Linked DNA regions of Homo sapiens: region 1 is linked to region 2. Evidence: fine-mapped expression QTL. A gene starts in region 2. The other region holds a variant in brackets. All regions are shown on one strand. Distances are between the middles of the regions.

The links.
Region 1: its variant is fine-mapped to the expression of TRABD-AS1 in whole blood (TOPMed, PIP 0.91).

What each region holds. Positions count from the first base shown.
Region 1 is chr22:50,282,260-50,285,152 of GRCh38, reverse strand. PLXNB2 (plexin B2) reads left to right here. Exons shown (of 37, transcript NM_012401.4): 12 at 488-580; 13 at 940-1,021; 14 at 1,163-1,320; 15 at 1,403-1,551; 16 at 1,708-1,816; 17 at 1,967-2,103; 18 at 2,272-2,442; 19 at 2,840-2,893. Among named protein-coding and RNA genes, the nearest start is that of MAPK11, 13 kb to the right of the region's middle. RefSeq lists an enhancer at 1,837-2,893. The variant G/A (reference allele first, on the strand shown) is at 1,305.
Region 2 is chr22:50,199,122-50,202,014 of GRCh38, reverse strand. TRABD-AS1 (TRABD antisense RNA 1) reads left to right here and starts at 1,232. Exons shown (of 2, transcript NR_186698.1): 1 at 1,232-1,939; 2 at 2,687-2,893. It overlaps TRABD (TraB domain containing), which reads right to left. Exons shown (of 10, transcript NM_001320485.2): 10 at 2,420-2,893. SELENOO (selenoprotein O) reads right to left here and starts at 1,004. Exons shown (of 9, transcript NM_031454.2): 1 at 425-1,004. The coding sequence starts at 978. RefSeq lists an enhancer at 1-174 and silencers at 535-614, 745-1,684.

The DNA.
Region 1 (2,893 bases), 83 kb before region 2:
ATGGGTGTGTGGGAAGCCTGAGCTCCACCCGTGCCCCCCGACTCGGGGCCCCCACATGAGGTAGAGGGCACAGGATTTATCGGGGACAGAGGCCAGGAGGCAGCACTCGGGGGCCTTTGGATGGGCCTGAAGAGAGGCAGTGGAGGAGGCAGGCGTGTGGAGATTGAGGGGCCAGTGCCACCTCCTGAGGAGGGAGCTGTGGGGGCCACGATGTCAGGTGGGCCGGGCGATGTTCTCAGGTGTGGATGAGTGGTGGAGGTGGCCGTGGGAAACCCACAGAGGACGTTCAGAGGCTTCTGCAGACACAGGTGTTTGGGCTCAGGAGTGGCCGAGGGGTCAGCTGGCATGGTAATCTGAGGGGCGGGCATGTGTGGGGTGAGGAGAGGGCTCCCACACTGTAGGCACAGAGGAGGGGCTGCAGGGGTTCTGGGAGGAGGGCCAGGGTGCCACAGCCGCCTGTCCAGGGTCCTGACGGCATGGTCTGCAGGGTTCCTCCCTGCACGTGGGCAGTGACTTGCTCAAGTTCATGGAGCCGGTGACCATGCAGGAATCTGGGACCTTCGCCTTTCGGACCCCAAAGGTACGGCTCCAGGGCAGGCCGGCTCGGCTGCTGGACCCCAGGGCCCCGGGTGGGGTGGGGGGTCACCTTCAGGACTGTGAGGGGAGGGGCAGCAGGGAGACCCCAGGGACCAGAGCCCAGCCAGGGGCTCGCCATGCCCTGTGCTGCTGGGGAAGCCCCCTCTGCCCTCTGCCTCCCTGGGGACAGAGTGGCACAGAGCAGCGTCCATGGGGTTCCCGAACTTCCGACACCTGAAGGCCTCCCCTGCTGCCCTTGGCTGGGAAGGGACCCGGTGGCCACAGGGAGGCTGCCCTTGTGACCCCCGCCCCACGCCCCTCTGTGGGGGCAGGAAGTGCAGTGTGCCCCTGCGTGTCCCCCAGCTGTCCCACGATGCCAACGAGACGCTGCCCCTGCACCTCTACGTCAAGTCTTACGGCAAGAATATCGACAGCAAGCTCCATGGTGGGGGCCACGGGCGCAGTGGGGGGCGGGCAGGGGACGGGTGGGCACAAGGCGGTGGGTGGGGGGACAGGTGGGCGCAGTGGGGAGCAGGTCGGGGGCGGGCAGGCACGGGGTGACCACTGACGGCAGCTCTCCCCGCAGTGACCCTCTACAACTGCTCCTTTGGCCGCAGCGACTGCAGCCTGTGCCGGGCCGCTAACCCCGACTACAGGTGTGCGTGGTGCGGGGGCCAGAGCAGGTGCGTGTATGAGGCCCTGTGCAACACCACCTCCGAGTGCCCGCC[G/A]CCCGTCATCACCAGGGTGAGCCCCTCGAAGCCTGGCCTACACCTTCCCTCGTCCCTGGCATGAGCCCCTCCCTGCTCACCCGGCTCTGTGGTTTCAGATCCAGCCTGAGACGGGCCCCCTGGGTGGGGGCATCCGCATCACCATCCTGGGGTCCAATTTGGGCGTCCAAGCAGGGGACATCCAGAGGATCTCTGTGGCCGGCCGGAACTGCTCCTTTCAGCCGGAACGTTACTCCGTGTCCACCCGGTGAGTGGACGGCCCTGGTCTGGGCCCTGTCAGCTGGGTCAGTACCCACGCTGGGGTTCCGGGTGACTGGGTGGGTGGGGAGGCTGAGGGGGTGAGGGTGTCAGGGTGTGGGGTGGGTCGGGGAGTGCCTGGGCCACACTGCCTGTCGCCCGCCAGGATCGTGTGTGTGATCGAGGCTGCGGAGACGCCTTTCACGGGGGGTGTCGAGGTGGACGTCTTCGGGAAACTGGGCCGTTCGCCTCCCAATGTCCAGTTCACCTTCCAAGTAAGCACCCGGCCTCGGGGACCTGCCGAACCCGGGAGGACCGGGAGGAGGGGCTCTGCCCGCCGCCTCCCCACGACAGTTACCATCCAGCCCAGGACCGAGGGCGTCCTGTGCCCCGTCCTCACCCGAGTGCCCCTGCGGCTCTTTCAGCAGCCCAAGCCTCTCAGTGTGGAGCCGCAGCAGGGACCGCAGGCGGGCGGCACCACACTGACCATCCACGGCACCCACCTGGACACGGGCTCCCAGGAGGACGTGCGGGTGACCCTCAACGGCGTCCCGTGTAAAGTGTGGGTGTCACCGCCAGCTGCTGAGTCTGGTTGGCCCTGGCCCTGGGTATGGAGGGGGGCACTTACTGAGACCTGAGTGGCCCTGAGGGGATGGCGGGGCCAGCCTGGTCGGGCTGGGGCTGGTCCCGGGGGAGGGGTTGATGCAGACCAGCACCCTCCCTCCCCCAGGACGAAGTTTGGGGCGCAGCTCCAGTGTGTCACTGGCCCCCAGGCGACACGGGGCCAGATGCTTCTGGAGGTCTCCTACGGGGGGTCCCCCGTGCCCAACCCCGGCATCTTCTTCACCTACCGCGAAAACCCCGTACTGCGAGCCTTCGAGCCGCTACGAAGCTTTGCCAGGTGAGGCTGGTGTCCCCCCGCCCCCCTCTGCTCCCCACACCCAGCTGCCTCCTCAGTGCCCTTGGCTGACTGTGCTGAAAGGAATGTGGTGGGGCTGGTCTGTGCAGCGGGAGGCGGCCTCCGGAAAACCCCACTGCACTCCAGATCCACTTCCTCCTAGAAACCCAGATGGGCACACCAGAGGCTCCACGCTCACCAGGCCCCGTGTGCCCCCCGCCCACTTGCGGCACAGTCTCGTGCTCAGCACGTCCCACCGCGTTGCCCCTTTGCCCACCGAGACCCACACATGCACCTGGAAGCCCCGTGTGGTCAGGGCCAGGGTGGGCGGGGACGGGAGGGCGGAGGCTGCAGGGACCACCCCTGCCAGCCGAGCCCACGAAGGCACTGCCCTCCGCAGTGGTGGCCGCAGCATCAACGTCACGGGTCAGGGCTTCAGCCTGATCCAGAGGTT
Region 2 (2,893 bases):
ACCTCACTTCGGGGTTAAAAAGGGCTGCCCGCAGGGAAGTCAGGGCCAGGCCTCCGTGAAGTCAGTCGCAGAGCGAGGCTGCTGGACGAAGCGGCCCGCCCCACGAGCGATCGGAGGAAGGCTGGGGACCTGCGGGGTTAGGGTTAGGGTTAGCCTAACCTCTCATCCCGGCTCCCGCCCCTGGGTTTGGAGCCCCAGCGAACGTCGGTAAACATGAGCGGCGTCCCTGGTGGAGCTGACTCCAAGGTCCTCGGCGGGTTGATAAGCACAGGGCGCGGGCGGCTGCCAGCACCGCGCTCCCGCGGGTGCAGGGGAGGCCCCACTTGGCAGTAGCCGCCGGACGCCCCCAACACCGCGCCGGGCGGAGGGAAGGGGCGCCCCGGCGGGGAGGACCCACCCGCGCCCCTCGCCCGCCCCGGCCCACCTGGAGAAGGGCGTGGGCCCGGCGCCCTTGAGCTGCAGCTCCCAGCGCTCGCCGGTCGCCGTGCACACCTCGCCCAGGTACATGGCGGCGCCGTCGCCCAGCTGCCCGGCGAACTGGCCGAATTGGTGGCCGCAGTAGCAGTGCGCGGCGGGCTCGGCGCCCGGCAGGAGCGCGTTGCCGCTGAAGAACAGCGCGGCCTCGGCCTCGGCCTCGCGCGCGGGCGGCGCGCCCAGGCCCAGCAACGCCAGCGCGGGCTCTGACAGCGCCACGAGGCGCGGCTGCCGCAGCGGGGTGGGCTGCACGCGGGTGAAGCAGGCCCCGGGCACGGGCCGCGGCGCGGACGGGGCGCCCTCGGGACCGGGCGGCGGCGCCTCCACGGGCAGGGCGCGCAGGGCGCGGTTGTCGAAGCGCAGCCCCGCCAGCCAGCGAGGCGCGGGCTCCATGGCGGCGCCCGACAACGTAGAGCGGGGCGCCGGCGACGGGGAACAGCGACCGAGGGGCAAGAGTCGGGCAGCCGCGAGCGAAGCCCCGAGCGCTGCCCTGTATACGGCCATCCGCGGCCCCGCTCCCGCCGGAAGCCAGCCTGCCCCGCCCGGAAGCCCCGCCCCGCGCGTCCCGCAACCCAATCGCCAGTGGGCGAGAGTGGGGCGGGTGGGGGGAGGGGTCGCGGTGTCTGGCCGGGCTCTAATTGGCTGCCTCGTCCGTCTATCCGCATCTCCCGGCCGGAGGGTCGGAGGCGTCCGGGGTGGCTGTCGGCGTCACGGGGCGCGCGCTGATGCGAACGGGGTGACAGATGGGAACGCCTCCGAGACCGCCAGCGACGACCCCGCTCGGGCAGCCCCGGATTTCCTCGGCTGCACCGGCGCCGGCAGCGGGGACCGAGGCCCGCGTCCGTTCGGGTCGGGCCGGGGCTTAGCCCCGCGCCCCACGGGCGGCCGGGACCCCACCCGGACCCCGCCGCGGTTCTGGGCCGCCGGAGCCTCGCGCCGCCTCTCGGGGACCTTGTCCCCTGGCCTCCGGCCTCTCGGGCCCCTCGCCTGCCGTCTAGGAGGGAAGGGGCCTTGGATCTGTGCCCCGCCCATGGAACAGCGCCCGGGCTCGGAGAGGCCCCGCGAGGCCGCAGGCGCAGACCCTCCCGGAGGGCTGGGCGGGCACCGGGGTCTTCGGCTGGCTTGAGGGACCCGACCCCTGGGGGAGGAATTTGGGGTCTGTGTGTCCGAATGAACGCGGGGGTTCAGATGAGTCTGTGGTGCCCCCGCTTTCCATCTCCTCCGGCCCCGGCCCCAGAGGACTGTCTGAGAGGCCGGTGGCCGCGGATCCTGGACGCGCCTCCCTCCTGCCTGTGGTTTCCCTTTATTCCGGCAGCGGCGCGAGCCCACCCTTCACATACAGGAGCTACATCCAGAAGCTTCTCCTGGGGCCACAGCGTGGGCTTCCGAGACTCTGCGTGACCCCAGCTCTGCCCCTTTGGGGCTGCGGGTGAAGCCCTCAGGACCCTCCGCGTGCGTTGGGCAGGTAACTGGATGAGGGATAATGTGGTGAGGTCCCCGTGCCCAACCCTCCTCTGCAGCCCACAGCAACCGTTCCCTCTTCAGCAGCCCCCTCCCCCCGGCCGCTCTGGGCGCCCGTTCCCAGCATCCTCCTTGGCAGGTGTTACCCCTCCCCATTCCCCAGGCCCTGGGCCCTCCTGATCTGTCTCCTCGACCCCCTGGGGCCCCAGTCTGGCTCAGTCTGGTCCACACTCTGGAATCTGGTGGGACTGGGTATGGAGGGTCTTGAGTGTCAGCAGGCCACCTGCGTCCCACCTGGTGGGTGAGAAGGGTCCCACAGGTCAGCATGGAGGGACCCGACTCTGTCTCTTCTGCTGGAAACCAGGCAGGTTCCTTCCCCCAGGGCCCCGGCAGGGCCACGAGTACCCGCTGCACTGGAGCACGGGGGAAGAGGCAGGGATCCTTCATTACCTGAACCCCATGTTCACACGTCACAAAACAGGAGTTTCCAAAATTAGAATTTATTTCAGTTTCTAAGGAATGAATCCCCGAGTGTGGCAGGAAGGACACAGCCGGCTCCTGACGCACACCTGATTTGATTCAACACCGAGTCGGCACAGACACAACCAGAGATGGCCTGGGTCCAGGCTGGGGCTGCACGGGCTGTGTCCTGGACAGCCAGGAGGGAGGCCCCGCACACAGACGGCCGCCGGGCAGGGGGCCTGAGCGGGACAGGCCTGGCCACAGCCCATGTCCTTGGCCTTCCACATAGGTGCACACATTGTCTGCCCAGAGAGGGCCAAGATGCCCCAGGCACCCCTTCGCTCCGGGGGCTCAGGACACAGGCTCCCAGCTGAGGCCACGCCTGGACCCAGAGCTGATGTTTGGCTGCACGCGAGCCCACTCGGGACAGACCCAAGAACACGAATTCTCTCCCTTTGGATTTAAGGCTGGTGTTTTTTGACATTTACTTCAGTTT